2 separate regions of the Homo sapiens genome follow, and region 1 is linked to region 2. A link means that fine-mapping ties the variant in region 2 to the expression of a gene that starts in the linked region. Tissue or cell type: blood mononuclear cells. Region 2 holds a variant in brackets; the other region holds the start of a gene. All regions are shown on one strand. Distances are from middle to middle.

Evidence for each region. PIP is the estimated chance that this variant, and not a neighbour inherited with it, causes the effect.
Region 1: it holds the start of ALKBH5, and the variant in region 2 is fine-mapped to the expression of ALKBH5 in blood mononuclear cells (TOPMed, PIP 0.96).

The regions. Positions count from the first base shown.
Region 1 is chr17:18,180,668-18,188,764 of GRCh38, reverse strand. ALKBH5 (alkB homolog 5, RNA demethylase) reads right to left here and starts at 4,937. Exons shown (of 4, transcript NM_017758.4): 1 at 3,752-4,937. The coding sequence starts at 4,521. RefSeq lists silencers at 2,787-2,836, 4,060-4,211, 4,370-4,459, 4,540-4,839, 6,976-7,270 and enhancers at 4,105-4,942, 5,050-5,289, 5,350-5,549.
Region 2 is chr17:18,206,564-18,214,662 of GRCh38, reverse strand. It overlaps ALKBH5 (alkB homolog 5, RNA demethylase), which reads right to left. Exons shown (of 4, transcript NM_017758.4): 3 at 7,693-7,848; 4 at 4,709-6,444. The coding sequence ends at 6,267. Among named protein-coding and RNA genes, the nearest start is that of LLGL1, 15 kb to the left of the region's middle. The variant C/T (reference allele first, on the strand shown) is at 4,536.

The DNA.
Region 1 (8,097 bases), 26 kb after region 2:
ATTTATTCTCTGCTTGCTCTGAGCTTCATGATTAACACCATGGTTCACTGTTAGCTTCCTTTCTTTTACTGCCCTCTGCCTTGTCAGGCTCTGGCAGCAGCAAGGGCAGCCAACCCCCCTGGCCCAGAGCTCCTCCTGACGGTGCACAGCCCTGACTTCATCCTGTGGTTCCTCCCCCTCCAGTGGAATCAGAAGAGTCCACACAAGAGATGTGGCCCAGGACCTATCTGCCCTACTTTCCCAACTATTTTAAGCCAGAAAGCTAAATTTTGCTTTCAACCAGCTGAACAAGATCAGACTATCCCAGAACTGACAGGGGTGCCCACTCCACCCAATACCAACCGTTAACTGGAAGAGTCACAGGCTGAGCTCACCAGTGCATGCCCCGTGCCTGGGTGATACAGTCATTTCCAGACGGCTGGCCTAGGCCTGGGTCTCTGGGCATGTGGCCACCACACCACAGACCACGTAGCAGTGATTAAAGATAGCAGCAAGTAAGCAATTAGCCTTGAAGTAATTATTCTAATTAGTCCAATCAGAGTCTGTTTTAATCTGCCCCATGCAGCCAACAGGGAATAGGAGAATGAATGACAGATAAAGTGATATGAAGATAAAAAATATTTCCCTAAAGTACAGCCTTAAGAGGGGATCCACCCAGGCCTAACATGGGAAGGTTACAAAAAACAACTGACGACTAGGTTTGGAAAGGAGTTTGAAGCACTTCCAGAAGATTCTGTGAGGCCTTGTTCTAAATGCCCAGGTTTAGACACTGCTGAGTCAATGTTTGTGACGCACCAACATCCATGCTGATCACTATTAAATATAAAATTGTATTCTTGCCATGCGGTCTTAGAGGGGTACAGATACCATTGCCACCAACACCAACTGAAGTCTAAGATGCCTACTACTAGAATCCCTCCCCATCTGCACCGCACCACTGTTTTCACCAGCCCCTCCCTTCCAATCTGCAGCTTTACTGCTCATCACCTCTGGGCTAGGATCTGTACCAGGAAAAGAGAAAGCACCACTTCTTACCAGTTTATATGCAGGATTTGACGACGGGCACTACTAATAGGCAGGTGTTCACCCACCTGCATACCAAGGTAAGCTAAGTATGCAGGTGCAAGAAGATTTAATTAGTGGAAGGGTCCAGACCCTAGAGCAGTGACTCTCAACTAAGGATTCTGCACTTCCCCTGCCTCGGCATTTGGCAGTGTCTGGACACTTTCTGGTTGTCATAAAAAACACTATTGGCACCTAGCAGATAGAAGCCAGGAATGCTGCTGAACAGTCTACAATGCACGAACAGCCTCAACAATGAAGCATTATCAAGCCCTGAATAACAATAGCACTGTTGAGAAGCCCTGATCTAGAGTTCACCAGAGCACCCTCAACCACAGTCTCTACTAATGAACTCCATCTGCCTCCCATCAACATCCACCCCCTCTTACCTATGGCTACTCCTGCTACTGCAGCCAAAGACACTGCTGTTGTGTATTTCTCCACCTTTCTCTGCTTGGCTCATTCCTAGTCACTTTTCACATTCCAGTTCATTTCCTCCCCTAAACTTCCAACACTCCAAAGTGGAAAAGATGTCCCCCTTCAGTGTGCTTCTGCAGTTACCTTCCTGGGCTATAACTTATCCTCCTGTCTGAGGCCTCCATGGGGCTTGAACTACACGAAGGGAAACTGTCATGTTTCAGGCTCCACCAAATCCCTAGTTCCTTCCCCAGTGAGAGAGCAGGGGATCACTGAGTGGTTGTATATGAAAGCAAGCACCCATTTAAGTACCTACCCTGTGCCAGGCCCTATCTTAGACAACAAATCACCACATTTAATTCTAATAGGCTTTGGAAGTTGGCATCATCCCCACTTACAGATGGGAAAGCCAGCTCAGAGAACGCCTACAAGATCCCAAAGCAAATGAGAGAAAAGCTGGATTCAAAGCCTGGGGCAGCACTTTTCAGGACATGGCTGAGCCTCCCACACTAACACCACAGCCAAGTCTGAATCCAGAAAGGGTTGACAGGGACTGGGAAAGCTTTAGGACTTTACTATTCTGAGGAAAAGATGAAGAGAATTTTCCTGATGATGCAATCCTGTTGCTGATCACTAACAGACCTGCATACTAAGAACTCGAAACTTCTGTTCTTAAAATACAGGGTGGGCATGTGTTAAGGAGAGTAGTAGTCCCAAAACCAAAAAAAAATGCCTTGTGATCCCCTCATTAAGCACCAGACCACTACTAGACCTCCTGACAACCACCCTGAGGGCCAATGACTACGCAGAAAATTAATATCCCGCTAAGAGACCAAATGGTCCTTGTGTGAGGTAATTTTTGCACTGAGAACCCGTCAATGGGGTCAGACCCCAACCTGCCTTACACAGCAAGCACCCGGAGAGGGTGTGTCCTGGAAATCCCATCTTAAAGCATTTTGCCAAGACATCCATCTAGGAGCGCCATGAAGATCTGAGAAGCTCAGAAGCCCATTATAAGAAGGCATCTGACAGCTAGGCTGTCCTCTAAGTTTCAGATGCCTAAAGAGCTAAAGTATCGCTTCTGCTACTACTGACTTCCCACCTTCCCACCAGGACGTCTTGGACATTACAAGGCTCTGCTGCCATCCCCAACATGGAAGCAGCCTCAGCTGTTAGACTCAAATGAAACAGATGACCTAATCTCATATCAAGAAGGCTCCAGGGACCCTGCTTCTCCTCATGACTTTGGCCCTACTGACTCACTTCAGAACCTGGGCTGCTCACGACAAAAGCCCAGTGTGTCCTCAACCTTGTATTTGGTGGTGGTCAACCAAGCTGCTCTGAGAACAGCTGCGGTCTAAACCTAAGATGTTTTGGGTATTACTGAATTACATTACTAGGTTTACCTTTTTCAGGACTGGAAGGAGGCCGCTTCCAAATAAATTTTCACTTCACATAAACAGCAAAGGTGTTCCCAATGGCAATCTCCTCTGGGGGCCAGGGCACTGAGCTAATTCTCAGCAGGATCTGGGAACCGAATATAGGCCAAAAGCCTAAGTTCTGCTGCTCACGCAACTGTAAGGCCAAACAGTCAAGAGACCAGCTGTATTCTGTTGTATTCAGTCCTGACTACAAGTAACACGTTCTTACAAAGAACTGATGGGCTCTTCTGCAGCCAGGAGGGAAGAATTTTAAGAGTGTGCTGCTCTGTATGCCTGGCCCAACCACTAATCTGTTCAACTCCAGGGAAGTCACTCCCCCTCCTGGGAATGGAGAATGTGCTTCAATTAAATAATCTCTGGGGCCTTTGCCTGTGACTACTTTCTCTGTTAAGGAATCCAAAAATGGCAGAACAAGAAAGACTTTTAGATAAATTAAAAAAAAAAAAAATTTTAAAGCATAGATTTGTAAATGGAAGGCCAGAATGGAAAACCGGAAAATCACAAAGGGACTTATGCTAAGAAATGGATGGTGGGAAAAAAAAAAATCAAAGGGAACAGCCTTCTGAAAAGATGGCTTTCGATGAATTCTCAGCCAAGTCAGTGATCCCGTCAAACCTGCCTTCGGGGACAGGATTTCCACATCGGTTCCCTATTTTCTTGCTATAGGTATCTTAAACACAAAACCCTTCTCTCGCTCCCTACAATCTACAAACAGAAGAACTGGTCAGAACTGTAAAAAACGCAGACTCCTACGGGCTGCTGCTTTCTGGGCCAGGGTGGGTAGCTAAGGCAGCAGGCGCAGGGCCGCCCCCTCCACCCGGGTGGGTTACCTGAGCACAGTCACGCTTCCCCTGCGCACCGGCAGGGAAAGCACTGGTTCCGACACCCGAATAGGCTTGAACTGGAACTTGCAGCCGAAGCACAGCGCAGAGTCGCTAAAGAAGGACACGGACACGATGGGGCGCTCGAAGATGTGGATGGGGTCCACGTGAGACACGATGCAGCCGCCGGGCTGGTAGTCGTTGATGACGGCGCTGTTGACGAAGCCCTCGGGGATGACGCGGTGCTCCACCAGCTTTTGGATCACCAGCTGGTGCACCCACTCGGGGATCTCGTCCACGTCGCCCGGCGGGTAGAGGCGCTCCTGGCCGGGCCCGCGCTTCTGCAGCTGGGCGCCGTAAGTGTAGCCTTCGCCGAAGAAGTACTTGTTGCGCAGTGGGGCCCGGTCCACCGTGTGCTCGTTGTACAGGCCCTTCTCAGCGCGGGACACCACCTCGTCAATGCGGGCCTCGATCTTGGCGCACTCGTCCTGGCTGAAGAGGCGCATCTGGCGGATGCCGCTCTTCACCTTGCGCGCCTCCTCCTCCTTCTGCAGCTGCTGCTCCTCATAGTCGCTGCGCTCGGGGTCCGAGTCCTCCTGATACTTGCGCTTGGCCCCGGACACAGGGTAAGGTTCGGCGGCAGCGGCGGCTGCGGCTGCGGCGGCTACGGCGGCTGCGGCAGCGGCGGCGGCCTCCCGGCTGCCCGCCTTATAGTTGTCCCGGGACGTCATGGACTTGAGCTTCTCACGCAGGTCCGTGTAGCCGCTGGCGGCCGCCATGGCCCCCACGACGCTGCTCTAGGGTCCTCCGGGGCGGGCGGGGCAGCCGGGCATGGCTCTAAGGGGACGCGCCCCGGGGCCCCCGGAGGGAGGGGGGTCCTTAGCGCCGAACCCCCATGCGTGAGTGGGGGACCCGGCGGGGGGCGTCGAGGGTCCGGGCGTGGGGTAGGGCCTCAGGAGCGGCGGGTCATGCAACGGTGGCGACAACGGGGCTTCTTCCTCCTCCACCTTCTCCACGTCCCGCGGGGCAGGGGCGCCGGCAGCGCCTCATGCCGCGGAGGGCTGCTGCGGAGACGCGGCCCGACTCCCGACCAGACCCTCGGACGCCCGGCCCGGCCCGCACTTTAAAGCTCTCCGCACGACGTCACGGGCAGCCAGCCCGACGTCCGCCAGCGCCGCTCCTTAGCGGGCTCCTCACCGCGCACGCGCAGTGCTGCCGGCCACCGCGGCTCCGCGCGCTACGGGCATGCGCGTGCGTGCAGGCCGGGTCGGCAGAGGCGCCGGCGCAAGCGCAGACAGGAACCGCTTGCCGTCCGCCGCCCCTCCCCCACTCTCTGAGGGGCTTCAAGGGAACGCTCTCAAATAGCAACCTGTCTTCACGCCGCGCCGCCTCCAGGACCGAAGGGCTCCCTCTACAGGGGTGCGCTCATATTGCCAACAGTGTCGCCGTGCCGCGTCACGGCATCGTCCGAACGCCCGCAGACGCCTCAACCCCAGGGCGCATTCACCAGGGAACCGCCACAACGTAGGCCGCTCCGTTACCTCCCCCTTTGGCGCTTCCACTTCTTTAATTGGGCCGTGGGCCACGCGCCGGGCAGGCCCTGACTGGAGTTTCCGGAAGTCGGTTGGTAATCATGCGTGTCAATCAGGCAGTCTCCTTAGCTACTGTGTCCGTCACTTAATTAGCGGCTGGGCGAGCAGCGAGGACCCCTAAAGGAGAAATGGGTGGTTAAATAAGTGCCTGAATGGAGACTCCACCTGAGTAAAGCCCTTAGAACGCCTAAGGAAACTTCTGAAACCCGCGAAAACTTCTCAGACTGCGGGACCTGCAGCACCCGGCCCCAGTTCTGAACCCAGATAGGAACGTCCGGCAGAAGCCAGACGCGCGTTGTCGGGGTACAAGCCAGCCTGCCGCCGCTGCCGCCGCCGCCCGGAGCGGACGTTTCACGAGTCACGTCCCGGTGACGGCGAGCGTGGGGGCGCGCTGGGGTTGGCGTCGAGCCTCCTTGGTGCTGGAGATGGGCGTGGGGGCACCTCCTACGGGGACTCTGGAAGAAAACTCCAGGAAACGAACGGGCGCAAGGCTAAGGCTAAGCTATAGATAATGACTACAGTCAATTCAAAAAAGTTTTGAAGCAGTCAGCAAAGGCGTTGCCGGGCGCGGGGCCTCACGCCTGTAATCCCAGCACTTTGCGAGGCCAAGGCGGGCGGATCACTTGAGCCCAGGAGTTTGAGACCAGCCTGGCCAACATGGCAACCCCATCTCTACAATAAAATTTTTAAAAATGAACTGGGCGTGGTGGCGCGCGCCTATGGTCCTAGCTACTCAGGAGGCTGAGGTGGGAGGATCCCTTGAGCCCAGGGGATTGAGGCTGCAGAGAGCCGAGCTGGCGCCACTGCACTCCGGCCTGGGCGACAGAGCTGCAAAACAAAACAAAAAGGCGTAGCCGTGCAGGATGCACTGGAGGGCTCCAACAAATGGGGGTCGGGGGGGATCTGCTGGAAAATCTCCCATGTCTCCCAGGATAAAGTTCCCCTGCTTTATTTGGCACTCAAAGCTTTTCTTCAAGACTCTTCTGGCCTTGGCTCCTCCTCTCCTCTCTTTCCATGTACACTGAGCCCCAGCCTGGTCCTCATCCTGTAAGCCAGGTCTACAAACATACTGTGTCTCACCTCCTGGCCTTTGCCCAGGCTGTTTGCCATGGCTGTTGCCCATGCCAGTTCCTTATCACCCGTCTCCCTCTCTCTCTCCCCCTTCCCCTCCTCCTCCTCGTTCTTTTTTGACAGAGTCTCTGTTGCCCAGGCTGAAGTGCAGTGGCACGATCTTGGCTGACTGCAATCTCGACCTCCCGGGTTCAAGACATCCTCCCACACCTCAGCCTCCTGAGTAGCTGGAACTATGTAGAGGCGTGTACCACCACACCCCGCTAATTTTTCTGTTTTTAGCAGAGATGGGGTTTCACCATGTTGTCAAATTGGTCTTGGAACTACTGGGCACAAGATCCTCCTGCCTCGGCCTCCCAAAGTGCTGGGATTACAGGCGTAAGCCACTGCGCCCAGCCTGGAATGGACATTTTTTTAAAAAGCTTATCAAGTTTTTACTATGTGCCAGGACCTGTGCATATACTAGCCCAATTAATCGTCCAAACAATTCAATGAGGAGGGCATTATTATTATTACCATTGTATATATAGGGAAACAGGCCCAGAGAGGTGAAATGACTTGCCCAAGGCCATACAGCGAGTATGTGGCCTAGTGATGATTCAAACCCAGGCTGCCTGGTTCCAGAATCTGTGCTGTCCCTCACCGGGGCTCCGAGAGGGGAGAGTCCTAGCTCAAGAGCAGTCAGGGAGGAACACAGGGAAGCTTCCAATGCAGTGTCCGTTATGGGAGAGGCTGTGTCAACCTAGAGAAGAGGTGATTCACATTTTGGCTCAACCTGGATGATCTACTTCCAAGAAGCCGCTTGTAGTCTGTGTGGGAGGCCCCAGTTGTATTCTGAAAGCCAAAAGGGCCCCCTCGTTTTCACTCTGCCACATCATCCCTTCCTGAGCCTCATAGTTCAGCTTGACTAGGGAAAAGGTTTTGGGGCAAAAGAATTAGCCTGACACCCCCTCCCCCTCACACACACCATGTATGATCTCACAACAATGAGAAATGAGGGGCAGAGGGCAGGCCTCAGGGCTGCCTCATGTTGGAGCCCACTGTGCTCTGTTTTGGGGGTCCCTATACTGAGCATCAGCGCCGCAGGCAGAACCCCAGGGGTTAAGTGAGCTGCTGCCAGGCATGGCCCCTGCACAGTGGTAACTTGATTGACACCACACTCTTTCTGGTGAGTTCCTTACTTTCCTCACCTTGGGGTCTGCTTCTGGGGAAAGCCAACCCAAGGCAGTGGTGAAAAGCAGGACAGCCCTGTGGCATTTGTATCAGGGGCTCTTTCTTGATCCTCTCCATCCCAGGATGGTCTGATTGACCCCCTAGTCCTGCCAGCTGGGCCTTCTAATCTCTCCCCAGTTACCAACTTCTCCCCACCCATCACCACCACTAGAATCTATGACAAGTTTTCCAGCTAACACTGCAGCAGCCCCCTCTGGTCTCCCCAACTCCTACATTCACTCACCGTTCAGTGGTCAGAATGGCTTTAACAAAGTACAGTCTGTGCAGGTTGTGCCTCCCCTTCCCCCTCTGGAAAACCTTTGAAGGCTGCTCATGGCTCTTGGGATGAAATTCTAAATTTTTTTTTTTTTTGAGACCGAGTCTCGCTCTGTCGCCCAGGCTGGAGTACAGTGTCGCGATCTCGACACACTGCAACCCCCGCCTCCTGGGTGCAAGTGACTCTTGTGCCTCAGCCTCCTG
Region 2 (8,099 bases):
CCACGTTGGGCAGGCTGGTCTCGAACTCCTGACCTCAGGTGATCCACCCACCTTGGTCTCCCAAAGTGCTGGGATTACAGGTGTGAGCCACCACGCCCGGCCTACAAATTTTTTTTTTTTTTTTTTTTTTTTGAGACGGAGTCTTGCTCTGTCGCCCAGGCTGGAGTGCAGTGGCGCATCTCAGCTCACTGCAAGTTCCACCTCCTGGGTTCACGCCATTCTCCTGCCTCAGCCTCCCGAGTAGCTGGGACTACAGGCACCCGCCACCATGCCTGGCTAATTTTTTGTATTTTTTAGTAGAGACAGGTTTTCACCATGTTAGCCAGGATAGTCTTGATCTCCTGACCTCGTGATCTGCCCGCCTCCACCTCCCAAAGTGCTGGTATTACAGGTGTGAGCCTCCGCGCCTGGCCCAAAATTTTTTTAAAGAAATTAGCAGGGTGTAGTGGTGTGTGCACACCTGAGGTTGGGAGGCTGAGGCAGGAGGGTCACTTGAGCCCAGGAGTTTGAGGCTGCAGTGAGTCGAGATCATGTTACTGCACTCCAGCCTGGGTGACAGAGGGGCCCTAAATCCAATCGTGAATGTCCTATTAGGAGAGAGGCAGAAGCCAGGCACAGTGGCTCACACCTGTTATCCCAGCAGTTTGAGAGGCCAAGGCAGGAAGATTGCTTGAACCTGGCAGGTCAAGGCTGCAGTGAGCTGTGATCCAGCCATTGCACTCCAGCCTGGGTGACAGTGAGACTCTGTCTTTAAAAAAAAAAAAAAAAAAAAAAAGAGGAGATGTGGTACACAGAGGAGGAGGCCATGTGACCATGGAGGCAGAGACGTGAATCTGCCCGTTCCCAAGTCAAGGAATGTTAACAGCTAACAGAAGCTGTCAGAGGCAAAGAACAGGTTTTCCACTAGACAGGCAAGCCCAGTGATGTTGAGTTTCCCAGAATTTGAGAGAAATAAATTTGTCGTTTTAAGCCACCAGGGTTGTGGTGACTTGTTATGGCAGCCACGGGAAACTATTACAAGCAGGTATGATGCAAGTCCCTTTGTCATATCATGGCTGAATTATAAGCACAAGCAGACTACAAATACAGTAATTCAGCAAAAAAACTAAAATAGATTTCTGTGAGAAAAGATTGGTTATATGGAATTTATAAGAATATATATGTTTTAATAATTTAAATGCTGGCCAGGCACAGTGGCTCACGCCTGTAATCCCAGCACTTTGGGAGGCCGAGGTGGGTGGATCATGAGGTCAGGAGTTCAAGACTAGCCTGGCCAACATAGTGAAACCCCATCTCTACTGAAAATACAAAAAATTAGCTGGGCATGGTGGCAGGTGCCTGTAATCCCAGCTATTCGGGAGGCTGAGACAGGAGAATCGCTTGAACCCGGGAGGCGGAGGTTGCAGTGAGTGGAGATCACTCCACTCACTGCACTCCAGCCTGGGCAACAGTACAAGACTCCATCTCAAAAATAATATTTATATGCTATACTTCACATCAGTAAAATTTATAACTTTATGCGTATATGACATCATATACTAGGTCTGTCTTGTATCTCCAGCACTGCGCAATCTCAGCTCACTGCAACCTCCACCTCCTGGGTTCAAGTGATTCTCCCACCTCAGCCTCCCGAGTTATCTGGGACTATGGGTACGCACCACCATGCCCAGCTAATTTTTGTATTTTTAGTAGAGATGGGGTTTCACTATGTTAGCCAGGCTGGTCTCAAACTCCTGACCTCAAGTGATCCACCTGCCTTGGCCTCCCAAAATGCTGGGATTACAGGCATGAGCCACTGCGCCTGGCCAGACACTATTTTTTGAATGCGTGAACGTGACCTCTGGCCAGTCAACTTCTCTGGGCCTCAGTTTCCCCTTCCACACAAAAGGGTTGGAGGAATGGGATGGGGTCCTAGCGGGGTGAGGGATGGCACCAGCTGTTAGAGCATCTACTGTGTAGAAGACTGGGCTAGGGACAGGGGTTGATGGGACTCAGCACCTGGCCTGAGGCCCTAGGAGATGGCTGGGAACAGGCAGATCCAGAATCAGATCAGGCAGATCCAGAATCAGATGTAGAGTTCTAGGGACTACTCAGAGGATTATGTTACAGAGATAGAGTGCTACTGTACAGGTAGAGAGACAGCAGGAACTGCTAGGGCCAAAGCCCCCTCCTCTAGTCCTCCTATCTCTCCATACTACAGGGTGAAGGGCCTTTTTCACCCAGGGATTGGGAAGAGGCTGAATCCTTTTTTTTTTTTTTGAGACAGAGTCTCGCTGTGTCATCCAGGTTGGAGTGCAGTGGCGTGATCTCAGCTCACTGCAACCTCCGCCTCCCAGGTTCAAGCAATTCTCCTGTCTCAGCCTCCTGAGTAGCTGGGATTACAGGCACGCACCACCGTGCCCAGCTGATTTTTGTATTTTTAGTAGAGAAAGAGTTTCACCATGTTGGCCAGGCTGGTCTCGAACTCCTGACCTCATGATCCGCCTGCCTCAGCCTCCCAAAGTGCTGGGATTACAGGCATGAGCCACCACGCCCGGCCCGAATCTTTTTTTTTTTTTTTGAGACAGGGTCACCCAGGCTGGAGTGCAGTGACGCGATCTCGGCTTACTACAGCCTTGACCTCCTGGGCTCAAGTGATCTCCCACCTCAGCTTCTGAAGTAGCTGGGACTACAGGTGCATACAACCACACCTGGCTAATTTTTGTATTTTTGTAGAGACAGGGTTTTGCTGTGTTGCCCAGGCTGGTCTCAAACTCCTGGGCTCATCCATCTTGGCCTCCCAAAATGCTGGGACTACAGGTATGAGCCACTGTTCCTGGCTGAGTCTGACTTTTTTTTTTTTTTGTTTTTTTGAGACTGAGTCTTGCTGTCGCCCAGGCTGGAGTCCAGTGGCACGATCTCGGCTCACCGCAACCTCCGCCTCCCGGGTTCAAGCGATTCTCCTGCCTCAGCCTCCTGAGTAGCTGAGATTACAGGCGCCCAGCACTACGCCCAGCTAATTTTTGTATTTTCAGTAGAGATGGAGTTTCACCATGTTGGTCAGGCTGGGAGTTTTTTTTTTTTTTTTTTTTTTTTGAGATGGAGTTTCGCACTGTCCGCTGGGCTGGAGTGCAGTGGCACGATCTCGGCTCGCTGCAACCTTCGCCTCCTGGCTTCAAGTGATTCTCCTGCCTCAGCCTCCCAAGTAGCTGGGATTACAGGGGCCCGCCACCATGCCCAGCTAATTTTTTGTATTTTTAGTAGAGACGGGGTTCCACTATGTTGGCCAGGCTGGTCTCAAACTCCTGACCTCGTGATCTGCCCACCTCGGCCTCCCAAAGTGCTGGGATTATAGGCATGAGCCACTGCGCCTGGCCAGAAGTCTGACTTTTTAATGGCAATGGAAAATAGGGTCCTCCACAAAGACGGTTCCTCGCACTCCCCCAGCCCTTCTCTGAGCCCCTATCCCATGCCCCAAGAGTCAGAAGCTCAGGCATGGAGTGGGGGATGCTTACTTCTGCCATTTATACTCTGGATGACATTCTGCAAGTCACTTTCTCTCAGATCCGGTGTTTCCTTCTCCAGGGGATCCAAGGTCCACTCTGCCTAGCCCAGTGTCTACCCCTCCAGGCCCAACTAGCCCCAGACCACACTTGAGACTCTGGCCCCTCTCTCTTCAGACCCTCGCACTAGTTTTTAGACCAAGCCTGGGCCAGTTACTTGCCCCACTCTGGAGTCTCTCTTCTCTGGTAAATGTGGAGGTAAGCAGCTTATCCAAGTTTCCACAGCAAGAATTTGGCCAAGCAGACTAGCTCTGAGCACTAGAACAGAGTAAGAGACTCTAGATAGAAGCCCTTTACCAGGCATAGGGAGCCAGGTCTGAAGTCTGGAGGGACTAAAGCCCTCTGGGCCCCAGCCTTACCCATTGAAAAACATCTGCTTCATGCCAGTACCTGCACTCCACACTATCATGAGCATCTTGAAAGGAGGGACCAGAGTTTTGCTCACTATTGGGGTCCCAGTGTGGCTTGGTATACAATAGGAACTCAAGAATTTTTTTTTTTGTTTTTTTGAGACAAGGTCTTGCTCTGTTGCCCAGGTTGGAGTGCAATGGCACAATCTCGGCTTACTGCAACCTGTGCCTCCCAGGCTCAAGCAATTCTTGTCTGTCTCAGTCTCACTAGTAGCTGAGACCACAGCTAAACGCACCTGGCTAAATTTTTGTATTTTTAGTAGAGATGGGGTTTTGCCAAGTTGCCCATGCTGGTCTTGAACTCCTGAGCTCAGGTGATCCACCGTGCCTGGCCAAGTATTTGTTTAATGAGCAAAATCACTCGCATATTTTCCACAAAAGCCAGGTTCTCCCTTGCTTTTGTGCCTGCCATCTCCCCCTTCACCAGCACCAGCCTCTCAGTGATCATATCTAAAAGAGGGACTTCCAGAACTCCAGAAGGTGTGGTCCCTGGGCACCTGGACATTGTGGTTTATGAAGTTCACCCTCCTTGGAGTGGGAGAAAGGACAGTGGGGTGAGGGCAAGTCCACCTTCAGCCATAAA[C/T]CCAAGGCTAGGCACACAGGAGGCCCAGTGTCCAAGACCAACCAACTCCTCTGGGACGCTGGCGGCCAATGAGCTAGCTCTGCCTCCCCAACCCCTGTTTCAAGTTTAAGAAAGTAAAGGGATTAAGGAAGCACCAAAGGCAAGCCCTCTCTTACAACAACATCAGACAACTGTTTCAAAATATATTAGATTTGGTTTTTATTGTAGAGCACACATATCAGGGCGAAGTGCTGCACACACAACTACAAATCATTTTTGGGAAAAAAGCTGTAAAAAAAATAAAACTGCAACTGCTTTAATTATGCAGTCCCGACTTGAGAAATCCACGCTGGCAAAGGAGTTCTGGCCCCTGAGAGGGGCTTCTTGATGGTGGCTGCCCCAGATTTCTGCAGCCTATGAGGTCTCAGACCCGGACCTCTGTACACAAAGCCCCCAAAGTGGTGGTATCCTGGTTGCTGGGAGGGCCTCTGCTCTTGGCAAGCCCGGGTCCTGGCCTGGCTGACAAGAAGACATTCCTAATGAATCTAGATCCACAAAACCTTGCTGCCTTCCAGGATCTGAGTGGATAGAAGCTACCAAAGACTTTACCTTTTTTTCCTTATTATTTTTTGAAAGCCCCTTCACCAACTCCCATACCCTGAAGCGGAGGAGGCACCAGCCCAGTCTGCAGGCCTGAGCTCTGGCCTTGGATGCATGCTGCCGGCAGACAAGATGGGGCAGGCGCCTTCCTAGAAGGATGACATGAGGATGAGGCCCAAGCTGGCCAGTGGAGAAGGGAAGGGAAAGGAAAAAGCCAGGAGACTAAAGGGGGAAAAAAAACTCAAAAAAGAAAACAAAAACCCTACCACACACCACAACAATTTTCCATACCCCAAATGCTAGACTTGGAAGGACACCAGTCCCTCTAGCTAGAAACAATTTCTAAAACTGACCCAACGTGGCAAGTCTAACTGTTCCAAATAATCACACGCATATGCTCAAAAGGAGCAACCAGCAAAGAAGTGTGCTCTTGATAAGAGAGGTCAGGACCACTGCACTAGCCCCTCAGCAGCCCAAGGAACTGTGGACATGGCAGGCTAGTGGGCGTGGGTGGAGGACGCCTGGGGGGCTTAACAATAGCTTTGGGATGGCAGGGGCTGGCACTGTTTAAGCCCCTGCCCAGGCAACCTGAACAACTCTGCCGCAGGAGGAAGAAAGGGTGTTTGCATGAGCTTGCAGGGCGTGGATGGCAGGTGAGAAGTGGAGAACAGCAGAGCCTGTGAGGCTCCAGGAGACCTCAACCAAGTGCAGACATCAGTGAGGGAAAGGGGCGAGCAGAAGACTGAACTTTGTTTAGAACACTGCGAAGATTTACACTGAAAGCAAAATAATTTTCTTAACCAAAACATTTTGTTGCTTTTAAATAAACCCAGCCTGATACAGCCCCACTTAAAAGATGGCTGCTCTGCTCCACCACCTCTACTGGCCACTCCAGCATCAGCCTCTGTCCCCTATTGATGCCAACAGCCTTTCCATCCAGGAGGAATACCAAGAATATGAGAACCTAGGTCCTGGCCAATTCTATTCTTCAGCCCTAACAGGCAACAAAACCAAGGAAAAATATATAGAATCAAAAAAAACAAAAAACAAAAAACAAAAACCCCCCAATGAACAAAAACAAAACCCTCAAAACAAAAGGAGGGGCAACTACGTAAGGATGAGCCAGAGTTCCCAGGAGGGCGGCGGGTAGACTCAGTGCCGCCGCATCTTCACCTTTCGGGCAGGGCTGCCTGCTGCCTCAGAGCAGTCCTCTGAGGACTCGTATGACTTGCGCCAGTAGTTCTCAGAGCTGAAGCTACCCCTCCGCCGGTGTGTGGGCAGCAGCACCGAGCGCCGGTTCTCTTCCTTGTCCATCTCCAGGATCCGTGGCCTGCAAGGAAAGGGAGGTAGGACGTTATCTGAGAGGCTGGCAGGAGGCGCCTGGCTTTACCGCTGTACCTCGTCTCATCCTTGGGATGGGTCACTTCAGCTCAGTGGTCCTCAACGAAGGGTAGTCCTGGCAGAGGCCCTGGTATCGGAGGTTCTTGCCCACTAAGTGCCAGTGACCATCCCAGTCTTTGGGACATTTCCCAATTACCCTGTGGGGTCTGCCTGGCTTGGAGTCTGGTGCCCTGGGACACTGCCAGGGCTGCTGGACAGAGGTCTTCCCTACCACAGCCTCAAGACTCTGCATGGTTCTGCCATCTACCTTTACTTCCCAGCTCTACCCACTTTCTCTCTCTTGGGCCTCCCAACACCCCCTTCTCCACTTACTAACCCCATTACCCCCTGAAACCACAAAGCTCTTTTGTATCTCAGGGTTTAGCTCATACAGTATTTCCTGCCTAGAATGCTCTTCCATGTCTTCCTTATCCTTCTGGAATCAACTTAAACATTACCTCCTTGGAAACCTTCCCCAACACTTAAAAAATATTTTTTTTTTTTTTGAGACGGATTCTTGCTCTGTCGCACAGGCTGGAGTGCAGCGGTGCCATCTCGGGTCACTGCCAGCTCCGCCTCCCAGGTTCACGCCATTCTCCTGCCTCAGCCTCCCGAGGAGCTGGGACTACAGGTACCTGCCACCACGCCTGGCTAATTTTTTGTATTTTTTAGTAGAGACGGGGTTTCACCGTCTTAGCCAGGATGGTCTCGATCACCTGACCTCGTGATCTGCCTGCCTTGGCCTCCCAAAGTGCTGGGATTACAGGCGTGAGCCACTGTGCCGGCCAAAACATTTTTTTTCCTTTAAAAAAAATTATCTCCTCAAATACCTTTTATCCAATCCTTTTTGAAATAAGTCCCTGGTTCACTATTATCCAAGTCCCAAGATTCCCTCCTGACATCTAAGTATAATTCCACAAGGGTGTCTGGGTGAGACTGAACAAGGAAAGTCATGGGAAAGCCATGATATTGCCATCTGTTACAGTCTCTGCCTGACCCCTTCTCTCTGGGTGTACAGGCAGTTGGCCAGGGTTAGATGGGAATGTCACCAATGCCACCAACCCAGAGGAACCAGACATAAGGTTTTGAAAGGGTGAGCAAGCCAAGGCTCCTAAACAGCCTACCCCAGGCTTCTCCACCCTTCTCACCCTGCAGCCAGGCCTTTGCCAGCCTTTGCTGAGGGTCCTAAACTGAGTACCTGTGGGCAGCATCAGGGTCTGCCTTGCGGTGGGACCGCTTGGGTTTCAGAGCAGGGTCCCTGTTGTTTCCTGACAGGCGATCTGAAGCATAGCTGGGTGGTAACACGGAGCTGCTCAGGGACTTTGTTTCCAACCGGGGTGCATCTAATCTTGTCCTGCAAAGGAAACATGCATGGGGTCACCAAAGGGCCTCCGGTGAAGGTGTGGGCACCATCAGACCAATTCTCTGGCCAGGCCAAGTGGGAGCCAGCTAGACCTGGAAGCCAGCAGTCTCTGCTCTGTACCTCACTCTCCTTGAGGTTCAACTAGAGATTGGTCTAGCTGACTTTCAAAGACCCTCCTCAAGTCCACCTTTAGGAGTAAGGAATGGGAACACTTCTGTCTGGAAACTCCCAATGACAGGCTG